Linked DNA regions of Homo sapiens. The protein of the gene in region 2 interacts with the protein of the main gene of each other region in a pairwise test. Each region holds a gene or a part of one and is shown on either strand. Other genes may lie near its edges.

Region 1 (7,000 bases), on a different chromosome or scaffold from region 2:
GGCAGGGTGGGGGTGGTGGTGTGGTAAACGCTAATAAATAATTTAACAATGACAAGTTATTAAATAAAATGTGTCTGGGGATGGCGGGTGGGTAGTGAGAATCTGTCTGTACAAGGAAAACAGGAATGGCCGGTGGCCCATCCCCACACCTGGCTGGGCTGGGCTCCCATGGGACCCCCAGGTGGGGTCGGGGGAACCAGCAAAGAGGCTCATTGGCAATGGTGCCTTCCAAGGGCCAAATGTTGGAGGGGTCTTTCCTGCTCCCCCAGTCCCCAGGCCACATGTGCCTGTGAGTATGGGTCCGCAAGCCTCCGTGTGCGTCCAGGTGTGAGTGTGTGTGTGCGAGCGCGTGCGTGTGAGCGTGGAGCCCTTTCCCCCCAGGGCAGACTTAGCCCCAGAGCTGCAGGCTCTCCCTCACCCTAGGTGGTGCCCAGAGCTCAAGGATGGAGCCAGGCAGGCATCAGGCAATCCTCCTTCCTGAGGTTCCCTGCGTGCAACATGAAAAGGACATTCAGATGGGGGCAGAGTGGGGAATCAGCCTCTTGCTAGGAGGCTGCAGGGCTTCCCAAAGGAGAAGAGGCTTGTCCCTGCCAGGCCCTGCTCATCTGATGCAGCGCCAGGGCCTTCCCACCTTTACCCACCCTCAGGAAGCCTCCTAAGATGCCCAGCCACGTGCACCAACCCCCTTTCTGAGCTCTTTCCAGGCTGTGCTGGCACCTTGGTCTGACTCTTGTGAGCAGTGTCTCTGTGTGGCCTCCCTGTGCGTTTCCCAGGATAGCAGAGTACCTGGGAGGCTTCACGGAGTAGGCAGATGAGGCTCTGGCTGGGGCCATGCCCAGCTTTTTGTCCCTCCTCTGCCCTGTGTTACCTGGGGCAATTATTTCCTCTTTCTGAGCCTTGACTTCCCCAGCAGGGAAGTGGAACTTGGTCTTTTGCCAAGACTCCCCCTGCCCACCTCTCATTCTCTTTTGCTCTGGAGACCACACAGTTATCTCCCTCTTCCCACTCCAGCCCCCTTAGTGATGAAGGTTCCATGTCACGGCACGGGCAAGGGGTGGTCCTGGCTACTCCCCGCCCAGCTCCCAGCCAAGGCTGCAGCTCCTCCCATAAAGTGGGAGAAGGTTGCCCAGCCCCACAGGCTTCTGCTGGGTGGCCCTGAACACATCGCCTCCCTTCTCTGAGCCTCAGGCTCCTCATCTGAGAAACGGGTCCCTGCCATGTCTGGACTCTCTGGCTGGGCCGGAGAGTCTGGCTTTCCTTCTAGGAGACACCCCTCAAGGCAGGCCCTGCATCTTGTTCATCTGCGAGCCACACCCAGTCCGGGGCTGGGCAGAGTGGGCACTGGTGTCTGGGAGCCTGTGGGCAGCAAGGCACAGCATAGAGCAAGGGGCCCCTAGCCACGGCTGACAGGGCGCCTCCAGCATAAGGGACTCTCTGAGGTCCCTTCTGGCTTTAACAGTCTGTGGGTCACAAGCATGCTGTCCCTAGACCAGCTCCTGGCATGGGGTCCCGGCTGGATTCGGGGGTTTGTGAGGCCCCAGAATGGGAATATGTGACCCCAACAGCTGGCAAGTTTACTAAGAACAAGTTGTGACCCCCTGACCTGGAGGTCATTCACAAACCACAGGGGACAGTGGGGCACAACGTCCCTGTTCTCAGCTCAGCTCTGTCACTAACCCGGACCTTGGACAGGCCTCTTTCCCTCTCTTGCCTCAGGGTTTCCAACTATAAAATAAGGGGCAGATGAGATGACCGCTTCTGACGTCCCTTCCAACTTATTGGGTCTGAGAGAGAAGGGCCAGGTCTCCTGGGGGATAGGGCATCTGCCCCTGAATCTGCCCAGGATGTCCCTGGCACGATTCAGATGGTGCATGTGCAAAAGGAGAAAGAGGGGTGTCTCTCCAGAAGCCAGTGCAGCTGCTGCTCAAGAGACCCATGGTGGCACGGACCCTGGTGGGCTGAGGCGGCAGAAGGACCAGAACATCAACTGAGGTCCTTGGAGAGGCTCTGTTTGTAAGAAGAGCTGCAGAAGGGCTAGCTGGCTGCTGGGGCCCAATGGGTGACACGAGGCCACATGTCAGGCAAGGAGGTTGGCCCAGGACATTCTGGGGGGACTGAATTTCCCAGCAAACGGGAGCAAAACCACAGAACAGGTTGAACTTAGAGGATTCCAGAGATCCAGGCAGAGGGCCCCAAAGGTGGAAAAGGGACATTCATTATCCTTACTTGCTCAAAGGTTGGACCAGGCAGACTTTAGGGTGGTGGCCTAGGGCTTGACCTCAGAGTTAAAGGTAGGGTTGTGAGCACCTGAACAAGGGGACACAGTGATCACCAGGGGACAGGGTGGGCTCACCAGTCAGGCCCCAGCAGCCCAGCCTCCTTGCTCTGACAGGGATAGAGTTGAGCAGACTGGGGCTGGGGATGGATCTAGTGCACCTGACTTCCAGCAGGGCGCCTGACACAATCTTCTGCAATTGCCCTGGGAGAAGGGGGCAGGAAATGCAATTGGAATGTGTCCCCCAAAGAGGATGCATTAATGGGCCAATGTCAAACAGGGAGAGGCCAGCCCGGTCCACACACCTCAGGTGAGACCCAGGGCCAACTCCTCACTGGGCAGATGTGCTGGGAGAGAGGAGAGCAGTGGTCACTGAATCAGGGTGCAGAGAAATTCCACAGGCTGGAATGAATCGAGTAAGAAGGAATGGAAAAGGAAAGAGGTCACGGTCCCTCATTCAGTCTAAACAGTAAGTGCAGACTGGGTGCGGTGGCTCACGCCTGTAATCCCAGCACTTTGGGAGGCCGAGGCAGGCGGATCACCTGAGGTCGGGGGTTGGAGACCAGCCTGACCAACATGGAGAAACCCCGTTGCTACTAAAAATACAAAATTAGCTGGGTGTGGTGGCGCATGCCTGTAATCTCAGCTACTAGGGAGGCTGAGGCATCAGAATCACTTGAACCTGGGAGGCGGAGGTTGTGGTGAGCCGAGATCGCGCCATTGCACTCCAGCCTGGGCAACAAGAGCGAAACTCCGTCTCAAACAAAACAAAACAAAACAAAACAAAACAAAACAAAACAAAACAAAACAAAACAGTAGGTGCCCCCATCCTGCATATACACAGAAAACAGATGTGGCTTAGCTGTCACTTGCGTGTGGGGCCCAGGGATTTAGCTACAGCAGGGCAGGGTGAATCTCTAAGGTCATGTGGCCAAATCATTGTCTTTTGGGCCAAATTAACAGAGGAAGGGTGCCACAGCAGGAGAGGTGATGTGCCTGCTCACTTCTGGCCGGCTGACATCAGTGGGAAGGTGAAGTGATACCTGCCCCACACCTTTAGAGGGACAGCCGGAGGCCTGCTGGGGGACAGTGTTAAGAGGGAGAGCTGGGGAAGCCTGGCTCTGGGATGCAGGACAGCACAGCTGCTGTGGGCTCGCTGACCTAGTGAGCTCCTTGTCACTGGAGGTATGTGAGGGGAGGCAGAGGTGGCTGGGGAGAGGACCACATTGCAGATGGGGTGCCCAGCAGGTGCTTCTGAAGTCCCTGACCCCTGGAGGCTCTGTTGTCTGGTCTGATGCTACCTGGTTCTGGGGGCTCCATCTGCCTCTAGAGTTGGTGGGGCCTGGGGCTGCCCTCCCTGCCCAGGCTGCCCCCATTTGGGCCCAGGCTGGGATACAACTGGGTCCGATGCTTCAAGTTCGCCTCTTCCTCTCCCCTTCCTCCCTTTCCAATCGCTCTTAAGAACTGGGGGGTCCCCTGCCTGGCCTCCTTTTCTCTTTCTGACAAGGCAGGACAGACCCGCTGAGCATCCCTGTCCCTTCTGGTGTCCCCATACAGCTGTGTGTGTGTTTGCGTGGGTTTGTCTGCAAGTGTGCATGTGTCTGCACGTGCCTCTCTGTCCCTTTGCGCCTGCCCAGGCTCAGGCTCCGAGCCCGCCTCCTGACAGTGCCTCCCCTCAGGCCCCTCTCCACTGCTGCTCCAGACTCAGGCTGAGGGGTGTGCGGTTCCAGGCAGTGGGCCTGCCCCCAGAGGCCACCCCTGCCCTTGCTGGGGCACAGGTACACACGCTTCTCAGGTCACCGCCTCATGACACCATTGTCCTGGGGCTTGCATGGAGGGCCATGGACACAGAGAGGACATTTAAAAAAATAGAGAGAATTTAAGCTTCCCAAAAAAGAGATGGGGAGGAGGCGATGGAGGCCGAGGTGGGGCTGGGAGGCGAGTGGCCGTCCGAGAGCTCTGGGTCCCTGGGGATGACAAGGTCTCTGTGGGCAGGACACAGCCCCTGCCCAGGCTGTGCCCATCTACCGGTCTGGCTGTACCCAACGGGCACAGTGGTCAGGCCCAGCTGGCCGAGGGGAGGGCACCGTATGGCTGTCTGTAGTCTGTGCGGAGAGCAGGGCGGGGGTGGCCAGGCTGGCCGCAGAGGCTGGCAGTCCCCCCCAGGCCCCTGCCCAAGCGTCCGTGCGCCTGGCTGGCTCTCAGGAGGCGAAGTAGGAACTCTGCATGGAGTAGAGCCGGTCGATGGGGTTCCCCACGCGGGCCTGCAGGGAGCCCACGTCTGAGGAGCCGAGGAAGCAGTCGCTGAGGCTGGTTAAGGAGGTATCGCTGTCGATGTCATGGAAGATGGAGTCGTTCCCTGGGGGGCAGAAGGGGTGTCAGGACCGGGGTACAGGCTGGGGCTCCTGGGGGCCCCCTGTTTGCCCTGTAGGCTGTGTGACTGGAGGCCAGGGAGAGACAGGATGGCCTGCTGACTAGTGCCGGCCAAGAAGGACTGGGGCCCTTCCTGTCAGCAGGGGCAGGAGGGCTGTGCTGGCCATGCTGCCTGAGCCCTAGGGCAGCAGGTGGCTGTCCTGGCCCCAGGCCTGCCTGGCCTGGCAGGGGGCAGGGGCTGTGCTGGGGCGGGCGGGTGGGGGTAGGGCGGCTTACCATAGGGGTTCATGTGGTCACCTGGCATTTGGGGCGGCGTGAGGCCCTGCTGGAAGGGGTCGCTGCTGCCGTAGGGGCTCTGTTCCATGGCCACGATCTGCTGCTGTGGTGGGGCCAGCGGCGTGTAGGAAGCCATCATGCCCTCCATGCGGCTGGACAGGACCTCTGGGGGCACAGTGAGCCTTCACCCCCTGGCCTGGTCCACGCCCTCCCAGCTACACCCCAGCAGCCTCCCCTTCTGATCTCCTTGGGACTCCCCAGGCACCCCACTCTGGCTGAAGCTGTCCAGACACTGACTCCCCAGCCCCTTCCCCAGGTGCACACTCCAGCTCCTCCTCCAGGCTCAGCTTACCAAAAGCCAGAGTCCTCCCCTCCTCATCTTCTTTCCTCCCACCACCCCGCCCCTCCAGGGGATCCAGGGAGGCGGCAGACCCCACACAGGCAATAGTGATTCTGCGCTGCATCTGGGAGCACCAAGGTCCCAGACCCAGGCCAAAAAGGCCCCGGGAAGACTTCCTGGAGGAAAGGGCCCCCGCCCTGATGTGACTTAAAGAACTAGCAGGGGCTCAACAGGCCAGAGCAGGGGAGGCAAGCCAGGCTGAGGGGCGGCAAAGGCATGGAGGAGACAGACCGCCGGGTAAGTGAGGGTGCAGCACGTGGGGCCAAGAGGCAGGGAGAGAGGTCGGTGTGGGGGAGACCAGCTGAGAGGGACCACAGGTCATGGGGAGCCCTGGGGTGCCGAGCTGGGTGGGGGTCCCCGAGGCCGCTGGGAGCCGCTGGAGGGTTTGGTAGACGAGGGTGAGAAAGGCTGGAGGAGGAGACCGAGGCTGGGGCCAGTGGGTGAGGAAGCCAGAGGAAGGGTGGGGTCTCTGTCAAGGTGGCTGTGGGAGAGACAGCTCCTAGGAGGGTGCGAGAGACATGAGAAGACTTCACTCCCCAACTTGGCACCTCAGTGGATCAGCAGTGTGGGATGGGGAAGGTCAGAGGTGACTCCTGGTTCCTGGCTCGGACAGGGCGGATGGTGGTGCCATTTGCAGAGAAGGGTGGGGAGGAGCAGGGCATGCCATGTGCGTGTGGGCAGGATGGAGCATACGGCATGGGTTGGGATGAGCTGGGGGGACTGTGGGACCTTCTCAGGGAGGCTGTGTCCAGGAAGCAGCTAGGAACACTGAGGGGTGAGACATAGCCCAGGACATGGCTGGGAGACCAGAGGCAGTGACTGCAGCCCCAGGAGGGGCAGAGGGGGAAGCGAGGAAGCAGCAGGCACTAAGGCTGTGTCATTAGAAGCCAAGTCCAGCCTGGGACACTGGCCTGGCCCCCAGTGCCCTGGTATCTGCCCATTGGTGCCCTGGCACCTGCCCAGAAGCCTCCCTCTCACCAGGGCGCAGGCAGCTCTGTCCCCCGCCTGCTTCAGCAGTCCCAGGGAGCTCCCTGCTCCTCCCTCATGGCTTTGAAGGCCCAGGAGACCAGCCCTGGCTCAAGATTCTGATGTGGAAACACGATTTTTGGTAAAGCCCAGTGATGAGGGGGCCTGACTCATGCCCCTGCAGCTAGTCCCTCCCGACTCCCCAGGCCCTTCACGCCCTGACAAGCTTTGTCTGCAGAATTCCGGCAGTGGGGTAGTGTCATCCTGTTAAAGGTACAGGCTTGAGCTCCAGGCTTGGGGCTGAGGTCCAGCTTTGCCTTACTGGCTGAGGGATCCCAGGCAGTCCCTCAGTTTCCTCATCTGTGAAATGGGACATGGCAATACCCCCCCTTGCAGTGATTTATGAGGACAGGGTGAGATGGGGTGTGCTGAAGGCTGAGACCCGTGTCTGCACGCAGTGAGTGTGAGTAGACTGTTGCTGTTCTGATTGCAGAAATTCTGCCAACCCTCCAGGCAGCCACTCTGCCATCTCTCCTCCCTGGGTCCCCTAGTCCCCATGGCTTCTCTATTTCTCTGTCTCAGTGGTTTTAAAGCAGAAGTTCCCTGGGATCTGATGGCCTTGGTGGAAGGCTTTTGAGAAGTTTTGTTAAAAGAAACATCCCGGGCCCCTTTGTCCCTAGCCCTGGGACAGGTGCAGCCCCGGTCCCAGC
Region 2 (5,426 bases):
AGGAAACTTGCGGCAAGCGTCTGCGGTCTTCGCGTTTCATTGCAGACTTCGGGGATAAAATTGCTGCTGCGCCCACGCGCAACTGCACTGGATAGGGAACGGAGGGAGGAGATAGGACAGACGACCACCCCTCCACCCACGTGGAGAAGGCCTCAGACTTCGGGTTCTGAGAGCCAGCACCCTAAATCTGGGTGCGGGTGTACTGGTAGGACCACAGAGTTGGCCTAGTATAGGCGCCTAACTAGGAGTTATTCTGAAGTTTCGGAGAGTAAGAACTTCCTGTCCCCAGGGCCGGGGTGCGTGGGGGAGGGTGGCTACTAAAGGGCAGGCTAGTCTCGGCCTTCGCCGTGGTTCAGCTGCCGCCAAGGGGGTCTCGGCAAAGGAGTTGGAGGTGGCAGCGGGAGTGTAGTTGGGAGGATCATTGAAGGGGCTTTTGGGGATCGACCAATGGAGGGGAGGCCCATCTCAGAGACAGGGAGAGACAAACTTGGAGCCATGGGGAGTGACATACAAAATTTTATTCTTTATTTATTATTATTATTTATTTCTTATGTGCACAAAAGAAAAAGAATCAAAACGAACCGACGCACTGAAAGTGGCCGAGGAGACCAGAACCGTCCGGGGACATTTAGCAGGTTAGGCCTGGGCCTGGGTCCGGGGTCTCTGCCCGGCCAGCCCCACAGGACTGGGATGGGCCGGACCTCGGCGCCCTCGCCGCCCTCGCCGCCCCGTTCGGGCCACTGGAGCCTGGCTGGGCGCCGGGTTCCCTTAAACGATTCTCTTTTCTCTTTTTCCTTCTCAAATAAAAAGGGCTCGCAGGGGAGAGAGATCTGGGCGAGGACTCCAAGCCTTTTCGGATTTGTTCAAGGATTTTTATTTATTTTCACTTTATTGACTTTGTTTCTGTTATTTCGAGTCGTCACGATCCACGGGTGAGGAGACATGCAGGGCGCATCGCCACTACCGAAAGAGCAACTACGGGGCGGGACGGGGCGGCCCGGCCTTCGGCCGCCCGGGGCGCGCGGGGCACGCCCGCGAGGGGGCGAGCCCGGGGGCTGGAGCTGCCACCTCGGATCTAGCCTGCGGAGACAGGGCGGCCGGGCCAGGTCTGGGGAGAGAGGCCGAGGAAAGAGCAGAGACAGACAGACAAGAGCGACAGAGACGGAGAGAGACAGAGACAGAGGGGGAGAGAAGCGGAGAGGAGAGAGGGGCAGAGGGAGAGAGGGGCAGGGAGGAAAAAGCGAAAACACGGAATTACAGAGAAAGAGCCAACAAAACAGGCCAGAGGAGTCCACAGGACCATGTTCGTCATTTTGCATAGAGATTTCTTTTCTTTCGTAATTTTTTTTTGTAACATAAAAAATGCCCCCCTCCCCCAGGACGTGCTGTGCTTTAATGGGCGTGTAGCTGTGTCCCCCCCTTCCCCCCCAGCGAGCGGCGACTCTCACAGCACAGACAGCGGGGCGTATCTACAGGCAGGGCCGGCGGGCGACAGGGACTCTACGGGGCCGGGCGGGGCGGGGCGGAGGGGGAGGGGTTATGTACACCGGGTTTCGCCTTCACACGACACACACCGTCTTTCCACAAAGCAGCAGCCTGGTGGGCTTTTGTGTTGTTTTGTTCCTTTTTGCAAAGACCATCATATTAAATAAATGTAGACTTTTTGTGGTTCTGTTCAGTTCCTGCCGGAGGAGGAGGCTGGGAGGGGATGGGAGGAGTGGAGTGGGCAGCCCCCCACTTCCACCCCGCAGCAGCTCAGACGCCAGCTCAGAACCGGTTCTTACCACCGGCAGATTGAGAGTCTGTGTCGGGGGAGGGGGCATCAAGTAACTGCTGGAGGAAGACCCCAGTCCGCAGTCTATGGAAACTGGTCCTGCGGCGGTCCCGGGAGAGCGTCCGATGGGGCTGCGAGTCAGGGAGGAGGATGCAGGGCGTCAAGGGACAGGCGAAGGACTGGCAGGAGGGGAAACTGGGAGGCCAGCAGGTGGAAGAGACGCTGAGGTAGGGGCAAGGCAGGGCTGAGAGCCGGGTCTCGCAGCAGGAGGTGCCGGGCCCTGGGGAACTAGGCAGGCCAGGAGGAGCAGTGAAGAGCCGAGAGTCCGGCTCGATCGGTGCGGGCTGCTGGGCCCCCCGATCCTTGGGTCCCAACCTTGGAAAGACCTGACGCCCCCAAAGCCCGTTCCTAGAGCCGGACCCCCACACCCCCATTCCATCTTCTGGGACAGGGCACACCCGGAAGGCGAGGGCAGTCCGGCTGGCACTGGGGGAAAAGAATTTTTCCCAGGGATTCGGCAGCGGGCTCTTCCTCCTGCAGAAAGTCGTTTTCTTCTTAATCTCCTTGGCCCAGCCCCTCCAGCGAAGCCTCCTGGCGCCCGAGCGTCCGAGGCGGGTGCCCGGGGCTGGGCCGCGCTGCGGTCCGCGCTGATTGTGTGTCACAGAAACATCCGGCGCGCGCCAGCAGGTCGCGCCCGAGTCCGGCAGGGTGGCTGGCGGGCTTCGGGGCTGGCTTGGTGGAGGCCGGGACGAGCTGGGCCGAATCCCCCTCACGGCGCCGCGCAGTCCAGGCAGGCGGGGAGGGGCGGCAGGCGGGGCTGGGGGCGGCGGGCCCGGGCCTGAGGGTCCCGCCCACGGCTCCACCCGTCCTGTCCGACCTTCGAGGGGGGTGATGTGAAGGGTTGCGGGGGTCGTGGGATGGGGTGAGGCTGGGGCGGTGGCCGGGAGGCATCGCGTCGCGTCGGTCCTCCCTCCCTCCGGGGTGGGGTCAGACGGGGACGATGTGGAGGCCGAAGCTGTCGGCCTGAAGCTTGATGTGGTCCCCGCGGTAACTAGTGGCGGTCATAGGCAGCGGCAGCAGCGGCAGGGGCGGAGCCCCGGGGGGCGGCACTATAATAATAAGGGGAACCTGGAAGTTAACACAGGAGAAGAATGGGCTGGGTGAGAGGACAAACAGGAGAACAAAAAAGGAAAGAAAAGCACAGAAAAGACCTCCCCTGGCTGGGGTCCAGCGGGATCCGGACTGGGAGACCTTGGCTGGGCAGTGGAGCCAGTTGCCCCGGAGAATAGTTGCGTTCACGGGGCATGAGAGGGACCCGATCTGGTGACGCCCGGCTGCGCACCCTCCAGGGGATCCGAGGGCGAGGGCGGCGCAGAGCCTTCGAGCGACCAGGGAGGGCACGGGAGGGCAGGAGGTGCGGGCGTCCTCGAGGGGTCCCCGGGCCTCAGTGCTGCACTAACAAGCCTGTCCCCCTGGCCCGGCCGGGTCCCCAGAGGTCGGGTCGCCGGGAGTGGGACCGTGCCCAGAAGCCGCGCGGCCGCGCTGAGCCGCCGGCCAGCCAGGTGGCGTACTCACTTAGTAAGGCGGGGTTGCTGAATCTCCAAGCCTCGTTGTAGGCCGTGTACTGGGGGTGGCTGTACGGGTTGCCGGAGAACTCGCTCCCTGCGGGAGGGTCGGGGAGTGGGGATCAGACGCCTGCAAGCCAGGGCGGACCCCACGAGTCCGGCCGGTGGCTTCTCCGCCCGCTCCTCCCGCCGGGTCTCAGGCGCAGGTGTCGCGGGCAGGGTAATGGCCGTGGCGGGCGGGCCGGGCGGAGGTGGGGCGATCACCGCGTCCGCGTGGAGAGAGCCCGGGGAGGCGGGAGGCACCGACGCGCTCGCACACCCACGGGCGGGACCTGTGGGCCGGTGCCCGCCCAGGGCTTCCCAGCGGAGGCGCTCGCGGCCACCCACGAAGGGTTTGTATTGGGGCGCGTCCACCCTGTCGCGCTGGGGGCCAGGGCCTTTATAGATGCCACTCCGGTTCTAGGAGGCATGGCCCCTAATGGGTGGAAATGGGAGTGGGGGGCGGTGGCGAAGAAAGGCCTTCGGGACATTTTTCTCCCAGAAAGTCCTAAGAATGGCATCAATGTGCAGTGCCAACACAAGAGGTGGGAGCTCTTTTGGGAGACACCGCCCTCCCGCCTTTCCCTCAAGAGGTTGGATGCGTGGGCTACGCGGCAGGGGATGGAGGCGGCGCAGGTGGACTGCCCGCTGGTCCGCTAGCGGTGAGCGGAGGGCCCGTGGGTTGGGAGCCGTCGTCGGAAGCTACCTCCCTCCCTCTGCGGGAGAAAGGCCAGGCCTCCAGGTTTCCCCCTCGCCCTTTCTCCTGTGTGATGACCCCAGACTGTTTACAGTGATCCCTAACCGCGGGTTAAGTAGAGGAGAAGGGGCCCCTCTCTGAGAGGGAGCTGGGGTGGGGGTGGGGGATGCAGCCACTGGAAAGCCTGTTTATTGACGAGGAGGGAAAGCATGCGTGCAGCAGGATAATGAGCTTCTGAGCTCAACTGTGACCAAGAGGAACTGAGCTATCTCCTTCCCCATCGCTAATGAAACAAGTGTAATTTCCTCATCAGCACTAGATTCTGTTTAACGACTCCCCCCTCGACACCACGAGCTCTCTGCGGCTCCCCTCTTCCCCACCTCCCTGCAGACTCCCTGCCCCCACCTCCCCACTCTTCCCTCACCCCACCTCTTTAAAACCTCCTCCAGCCCCCACCTGCTCACTGCTGGGAGTTTCTCCCTAAAATCTCCTTGCCTCCCAACAAGGCTTCTACTTTCCTTCCCCTAAATCTGGGCAGGAATCCCTTTACCCACACCTCTAACTCCCTTCAGCCCCTAGTCCATAAGACCCAGCAGCAATCTCCCTCTTTGCCGCTGCCCCTACCCCAAGCTCTGCTTACCCAGGGTTATACCTAAATGTCCCTGGATGGATGGGGCCAACCACTCTCTTCTATCCTCCCCATTCCCCATACCAATGAGAGTTGAACTTCAGGGAAAGGCCACATAGAGGGCGGCCAGAGGGAGTGAGTTGCTGGCTGAGTGAGTCTAACCCTCCTTAAGACAAGAGTGTTTTGGTGTTTGTGCACATAGGAACTTCAACTCTCTTTGGCTTCAAGACCCTGCTCCCAATCTGGGGTTAGGGGTTAGGTATAGTACAACCTCCAGCTGCAGTCACCAGACCTTAAATACAGCCTCTGTCTCTCTGATTCAAACAACCCAAACCCAACTCCTCTGATTAGGGATGGGTCAGAGCCCCAGGGAAGCAATGGAAGGCTGGGTGCCTCTGAAGAGGTATAGGGGTGTTCTAGCCTGTCTCACTGCAGCGACTCTCCCTGCTTCCCGCCGCAGCCTGACCTCCATTCCTCTTAGGGACTAGCTCCCTACTGTCTCTGGGTTGGGGTTGGGGTTGGTTCTCAACATTGGTCTTCCCTTGTGTCTTGGTGTGGACCAGGGTGGCTTTGTCTGAGTGACTGACATGCCCCTGGAAATGGTTCTTGGCTCCAAGTTTCCATGGAAACCAGGGCAGGCTCTTCCAAGCAGTGTCAGCTGGCTGGGGTGGGCTGGGCACTGAGGGTGGAGCTGAGGCTGAGTGCTCCTCGGGCACAGACTTG
Region 3 (7,563 bases), on a different chromosome or scaffold from region 2:
CAGCAAATGCCACAAGTACTAGTAGCACAAGCCGTTTCACCAAAGCCACCAGAGAGCAAACTGTAATGTTCATGCAAACAAGTATACCAGATTCATTCAGGATATCCTACTTCATGCAACAAGGATACAAGTATAGTTAATGACTACTCTCTCACATCCTCAATACATTACCTTTTTTTTATAACCAAGTCTACCATTTCTTGATTCCACTGGAATGTAAGCTTTATGAGAAACTTATATCTGATTTGTTCATTTGATACCCAAACACTGCTAGGTACATAGGAGTAAATATGTAATATTTAGCAGTAAATATTTCTTTGATGAATGAATCTTTTCCTTTGTTCATTACACAGATCCCTTCTAAGCTCCTCCCTAGACTTTTCCTCCTAAACTGTGGCTAGTTAAGCCTCATGTTGTTCTATCCCAATGACTGTTTACTCCATTTGCATGTGGCCCTTCCCCTTAACTGGAGCTCTAAGCAATGCTGTAGTTCAGTCTCAGCAGAATCCTCTCTAACTCTTGGTAGTTAAGCCATACCACTGGCTCATGATCATCCTTGTGGTCCCCAAAATGCTAATGCTCTGCAGCTTCCTTTTTATTTTTTATGTCTCCCCTAATGTCTTACTGAAAGTTACGTGTTTACTGGCTTCACACATTTTGTCTCTTTTCATTAAGACTAATATGTTCTGCAATATTAGTTTCTCTTCTCATTAGTATAAGAAGTTTCTCTTCTGATTAGTACTTTATGTAACTGTAACAAGATTCCTGTGTTAAGATTATTTTGTAGCCTACCATGATATTTAAAACTCTCTATTAATATTGCTAGTATGGGAATGAGTAGATATTTTAATTTTGGGGTTAAGGATAAATAATGTGGAATCATTTAGTCAGTCATAGAAGCAAAAATTTTGCTCCCTTTGTTTTTATTTTATTAACTCAACCAATAAAAACCCATTTTGTAAAAGCAAATGTCTCAAATTTTTGTAAACATCCTAACGACCTCAAATGTTTATACTTATATTTGACAAATTTGTATGTGTTTTTCTCCAGGAATGAGTTGGAACATTTGCAGTATAAGGTATTGCAGGAAAGAGAGAATTATCAACAGTCTTCTCAATCAAGCAAAGCAAAATCAGCAGTACCTTCCTTTGGTATAAATGATAAATTTACACTAAATAAAGATGATGCCAGTTACAGCCTTATCTTAGAGGTACAGACTGCAATAGATAATGTCTTAATACAGGTAAGCAAAATGTCTAATTTCTTAGTTTTATGACTGGATCTATTTTGCAAACCAGTCATATGTACTAATTATTATTGAACATTTTTAGTTTTAGACAGTAATTTTATTTTATTTTTATTTTTATTTTTATTTTTTTGAGACAGAGTTTTACTCTGTCACCTAGACTGGAGTGCAGTGGTGCGATCTCAGCTCACTGTAACCTCCGACTCCCAGGTTCAAGTGATTCTCCTGCCTCAGCCTCCCGAGTAGCTGGGACTACAGGTATGTGCCACCACACCTGGCTAATTTTGTATTTTTAGTAGAGACGGGGTTTCACCATGTTGGCCAGGCTGGTCTTGAACTCCTGACCTCTGGTGATCCACCCGCCTCGGCCTCACAAAGTGCTGGGATTGCAAGCGTGAACCACCCCACCCAGTCATAGACAGTAATTTTAAATGTTTATGGCCTTTTATTCTTCCTTTAGATAATTGGTTTGCTCACAGATTATTTGAATTATATTTTTACTTTTTATTTATGTACTTAACAAACAAAAGATGGGCTTCAGTTTTAAGAAGAGTTAGAAAAGACAGTAAGGTTTTTCTTCTTTGGCTACCCTCTGGGAGAATCTTAACAGAGATGTGACTTAGAAAACTACCATATTTAATGCCCTTGCTAGAACATTTTTTTTTAAAGCCCCAAACATTAAAGTACAGCTTGCTCATTAACCCAACAGTTTCTGGTAGGTCAACAGGCAAAGTAGAGAATACTAAAGGGTGAAATTTAGGGATAATAATATATGACTCCATTCATCAATGTATATATTTACTGACTTATTTAAATTAGAAGGTATTCAGGAAGTAGAAAAGAATAATAGGATGAATAGAAAACAAACAAAAGGTAGTAAACCAATCACAAAATGAGAACATAACAAATTGGAGGAAGAAAAGGTTTAAAAAGATGTAATGGAGAGATCAGATTATTAAAAAAAAAACCTAAAGGCAGAAAACTCTCTTAAGTAATGCTAGCTCACGGGCTGTTGCATTGAACAACTCTAGGAATGCCATTCACATAGGACAGTGCAACAGCTTTGTCCTACAAACTGCCTCTCCAGAGGAGACCAAAAATTATCTTCTTTCTGTGTTACAGGTAAAATTAAAACTGATAAAAATGAACTGATACAATCAGAATGGCCATGTGATTATTTATAGCTCATGGTAACATTTTTAGCACTTTATAAAAATAAGTGGGATGATTGGACTTTTAAGGGGGTGGTGAGAGATGTTATTCTGTGATTTTTATAATCCAAGTTAGAAAAAAGCAGGTGATTGTAAAATAACATTTATTCTTTATTATATTTATTTTCTGGAAGTATATACTATCAAGTATAAGTTAAGAGAATTCATACTCTCAAATTTAAAGATGAATATAAACTAGAACTAAGGAGAACTCTTAGAGAAAACATAATTTATGAACATTTTTAGGTTTTCCATCTCAACCTTCTTTTTTTTTAATATTGACTATAGAGTGATGTTCCAATAGATTTACTTGATGTGGATAAAAATTCTGCTGTTGTTAGCTTTAGCAGCTGTGATTCTGAGGTGAGTAAAAATATAAAAGAATTCTTCACATGCTTTCATTTCTATTATGCCATTTTGATTAAAGTCTATAGATGCTGCTAGGTTTTGATGTTTCTTTTTCAATTATTTCTTATGTAACCTTTCCTTCAAAATCTGTGTCGGTTCTCTTTCCCTGTCCTCAGTCGAGAAACCTGATGTCCTAGATTCCTTCTTTTCTGTGATCTGTTACAGGTTGATATCCCTTATGTGAAATGCTTGGGACCAAGAAGTATTTTGGATTTTGGATTTTTTTCAGGTTTTGGAATATTTGTTTTGTATTTACTGGTTCAGCACCCCAAATTTGAAAATCTGAAATCTGAAATGCTCCAATGAGCGTTTCCTTAAAGTATTATCTTGGCACTCAAAAAGTTTAGAGTTTTGGAACATTTTAGATACTCAGTTTGGGAATGTTCAGCCTATATATCCAATTAGTCACTAGTTTCTGTCAGTTCTACCTCCATGGCTTTCATACTTCCACTTGGCTTCATTCCTACCCCTGTTAACTTAGTCCAGGCCCTTATCATGTCTTGCTTGAACTACTTTATAAGTTTCTCTGCCTCTAGTCTTGCCTCTGACTTCTAGGATATGCTGTATGTACACTACCACCAGAGACGTCTTCCTTCCTAAAACACGAACATCACTGTATCTTTCTTTTCTCAAAACCTTTTCAATATTCCTGATTTCCTGCTAGATATAAATATAGATTCCTTATTGTGGCATAGAAAACTTTCCATGATTCAGCTCTTGATTACATCTCTAACTTCTCTCTCACCGGCTGCTACCACCCCTCCCATGCACATTATTTCTGCCAAACTGAAGTTCTTAAAATTCCTGAAAATGCTATATAGTTTCACACATCCCTGCATTGGAACATGATCTGTTGCTTCCCCCGCTCTTCCTGCCCTGCCCCACTTTTTCTAGGCTTGTTGAATGCATACTAAACTTCATTCAACAGACTTTTATTGAGCACTTAACGTGCACAGTACCTGAGATGATCACGTCAGTGCTTTTGGACATGCTTACTGTATCACTTCTTTCTGCTTAGTACTAGCCGATAAGCAGTCTCAGAGCTAGGTGTGACTCCTGAAGAGAAGTCAAGGTATAGATAAGGTTTGGATTAATTGCATTGTAGAAGGCAAGCCAGAGCAGGAGGAGATGGTAACTGGAGTTGGTGGTTAGTTATATTAATATATATTTTATTTTATTTATATGCATTGGCACTGTTGCAGAATATATTTTATTTATTTGGTTTTTGTTATTTATTTACTTTTTTAAGACATGGTCTCGCTCTGTTGCCCAGGCTGGAGTGCAGTGGCGTGATCATGGCTCGCTGCAGCCTCGACCTCCTTGGCTCAAGCAGATCCTCCCACCTCAGCCTTCCAAGTAGCTGGGACTACAGGCACAAGCCACCATGCCTGGCTGATTTTTAAATTTTTTGTAGAGACAGGGTCTTCCTATGTTGCCCAGGCTGGTCTCAAACTCCTGGGCCTAAGTGATCCTCCCACCTCAGCCTCCCAAAGTGCTGGGATTATAAGCATGAGCCACCACGTCTGGCCTTATATATATATTTTTAAAAAGGAGGAATAAAAGAGTAGATAAAGTAAAATATTGATAGATAAAAGAATAATTTTCTTTTTCTTTTTTTTTTTTTTTTTTTGAGATGGAGTCTCACTCCTCACCCAGGCTGGAGTGCAGTGGCACAATCTCAGCTCACTGCAACCTCCGCCTCCCAGGTTCAAGCAATTCTCCTGTCTCAAGACTCCCAAGTAGCTGGGACTACACGCACACGCCACCACACCCGGCTAATTTTTGTATTTTTAGTAGAGATGGGTTTTTGCCATGTTGGTCAGGCTAGTCTTGAACTCCTGACCTCAGGTGATCCACTGGCCTTGGCCTCCCAAAGTGCTGGGATTACAGGTGTGAGCCACTGTGCCCAGCCTGTTTTTCAATATAACTTCATAGTAAAAATTTTATTTTTAATAAGCGATTTTATAACAGTTGTATTATATTATCAATATGTGGTTTGTCGTTCCTGTTTGAGAACAAAACACAAAAGATATGGCCTACATTTTTATGATTATTTAGAAAATCAGTAAACTTAAAACAAACTTAAAATCTTTGATTCTTAAGTTACTATGAAAGATTAATCTGTTTTAATTACATCACTGAAGGATTCTTTGAAATGACTATTTGATACTAATTTAAAATATATTTTCTAGGACAATGGCTTTAAAAAAACGTATGGAGGTTTCAAGTATACACAAAAGTAGAAAGACTAGTATAATAACTTGCATGTACCCATCACTAATTTTCAACATATGGTTAGTCTTTTTTTTTTTTAAAAGATGGGGGTCTTACTGTGTCACCCAGGCTGGAGTGCAGTGGCGTGATCATAGCTTATTGCAGCCTGAAACTTCTGGGCTTAAGCTTATCTTCTTGTCTCAGTCTCCTGAGTACGTAGGACCATAGGCATATGCCATGATGCCCAGCTAATTTTTTTTATTTTTTATTTTTTGTAGAAATGGGGCCTCACTTTGTTGCCCAGGCTGGTCTTGAACTCCTAGCTTCAAGCTGTCCTTCCACCTTCCAGCCTCCCAAAGTGCTGGGATTACAGGTGTGAGCCACCATGCCCAGCCCAGTCATTTTTTCATGCTCTTCACCCTCTCCTTCCCACTCCCAAACCTCATCCCAAACATGTTATCTGTATCATTTATTGATAAACACTGTAGTATATAACGTTTGCTTTTAATCATACAAGAACACATTTACGGCTTGGCACCGTGGCTCATACGTGTAATCCCAGCACTTTGGGAGCCCAAGGCAGGTGGATCACTTGAGGCCAGGAATTCAAGACCAGCCTGGCCAACATGGTAAAACACCCTCTTTACTAAAAATACATAACAAGTAGCTGGGTGTGGTGGCATGCACCTGTAGTCCCAGCTATTTGGGAGGCTGAGGTATGAGAGTCAGTTGAGCCCAGGAGGCAGAGGTTACATTGAGCTGAGATCACACCACTGCACTCTAGCCTGGGCAACACAGCAAGACTCTGTCTCAAAAAAAAAAAAAAAGAATATATTTACTTTTAAATTGATCAGTCCTCTCTGTTGAGTTTAAATGATTTGAAATTGAAATGTTTGAGTTTTATATTTTATATTACCATCCTTTTTATTTCTTTGATTATTTAATAAAAATAGAGAAATAGCAGTCTCAAAAATTACATATAAATTATCTTATGTTGCTGTGTCTCTTTTTGTAATCCATGAACCTAGCTACATTTCTCTATTTCTAGTAGTTTAATATTCAATTTCAAGAAGTTATAATATTTGAAAAAACTCCTCTAGGTTAGTTCAACAAACATGTATTAAGCACTTACAGTATGCCAGGCACTGTGCCATTTGCTGGGAATACAGAGAAGAGATATTTCTCTTTCCTGTATAAGTATTTGTGAAAAATCTAAGAGATTCAATATTAAACTCTGGTGTATGTGCCTTTACAGTATAAACATTTTGTATTAGTCCATTTTCACACTGCTGATAAAGACATATCCAAGATGGGACAATTTACAAAAGAAAGAGGTTTATTGGACTCACAGTTCCACCTGGCTGGGGAGGCCTCACAATCATGGCGGAAGGTGAAAGGCACATCTCACATGGCGGCAGACAAGAGAAAATGAGAGCCAAGAGAAAGGGGTTTCCCCTTATAAAACCATCAGATCTTATTCACTACCATGAGAGCAGTATGGGAGAAAATGGCCCCATGATTCAATTATCTCCCACTGAGTCCCTCCCACAACACATGGGAATTATGGCAGTACAATTCAAGATGAGATTTGAATGGGGACAGAGCCAAACCATATCACATTTGGTGTTTGCATTGTCAGATTTTTAGAAGAATTCTTAATGTTTAAAAATGTTATTGTAAAAACTCAAGATGGAAAGAGCATGAGCTTTCGATAGGAATTTGAATTCCAGTTTCATCACTTAATGGCTTTTATTTAACTCCTCATAACCTCAGTTTCTTCATCTGTTAAAATTTAATTAGTAAAACTTAGTGCATAGAGTTTTTGTAAGTGTAAGTTAGAACATGTTTGAAAAGCGCTGAGCACCAATGACAGGTGCTTAAGCAAATGGTAACCATTATTATTATTGATGTCTTTTTTTTGTTGCTAAAAACATGGATTCATTCTTTTCCTCCACTTTGTATTCTTCCCAGTCAAACGACAACTTCCTTCTTGCCACTTATCGGTGCCAGGCAGATACTACAAGGCTGGAACTCAAGGTAAAAATATTAGAAATTACCTTTACTTGAATGTTTGAATTTCCTTTTTCCTGCTGGTATGTCTTACAACATATGATATTATTTGTTTGCATTTAATTTCTCCCTGAAATGAATTGTTTGGAGTAATGAATTTTGAATGACCAGTTAGGATGTAATTTAGCCCACACCACAATCTCTGCTATTACTTCTTAATCACCTTCTCTAAAATTATTGATTTTATTTTTTAAATAGAAACTGGATTTTGCCATGTTGCCCAGGTTGGTCTCAAACTCCTGAGCTGAAGCAATCCACATGCCTCAGCCTCCCAAAGTGCTGGGATTACAGGGGTGAGCCACCATGCCCGGCCTAAAATTATTGGTCTTAAAGTTTCCTCTAACTGAAAAATTTTTTTCAAATTTTCTATTATAGAAAGTTTCAAACATTTATAAAAGTAATTAATCCCCATGT

Evidence for each region.
Region 1: the proteins of PAX2 (region 2) and LMX1B interact in binary tests that used the Homo sapiens proteins (3 or more experiments, as listed by UniProt).
Region 3: the proteins of PAX2 (region 2) and BBS7 interact in a two-hybrid assay, tested with the Homo sapiens proteins (one study listed by BioGRID and IntAct).

Annotation. Positions count from the first base shown.
Region 1 is NC_000009.12:126,693,928-126,700,927, reverse strand, and holds part of LMX1B (LIM homeobox transcription factor 1-beta), read right to left. Parts: intron 5,090-7,000; coding exon 4,925-5,089; intron 4,635-4,924; coding exon 4,477-4,634; 3' UTR 1-4,476. UniProt on the Homo sapiens protein: Transcription factor involved in the regulation of podocyte-expressed genes. Essential for the specification of dorsal limb fate at both the zeugopodal and autopodal levels.
Region 2 is NC_000010.11:100,825,019-100,830,444, reverse strand, and holds the end of PAX2 (paired box protein Pax-2), read right to left. Parts: intron 3,437-5,426; coding exon 3,350-3,436; intron 2,903-3,349; coding exon 2,826-2,902; coding exon of another isoform or gene 2,762-2,825; 3' UTR 501-2,761; downstream 1-500. UniProt on the Homo sapiens protein: Transcription factor that may have a role in kidney cell differentiation. Has a critical role in the development of the urogenital tract, the eyes, and the CNS.
Region 3 is NC_000004.12:121,839,184-121,846,746, reverse strand, and holds part of BBS7 (BBSome complex member BBS7), read left to right. Parts: intron 1-1,050; coding exon 1,051-1,243; intron 1,244-2,745; coding exon 2,746-2,820; intron 2,821-7,050; coding exon 7,051-7,116; intron 7,117-7,563.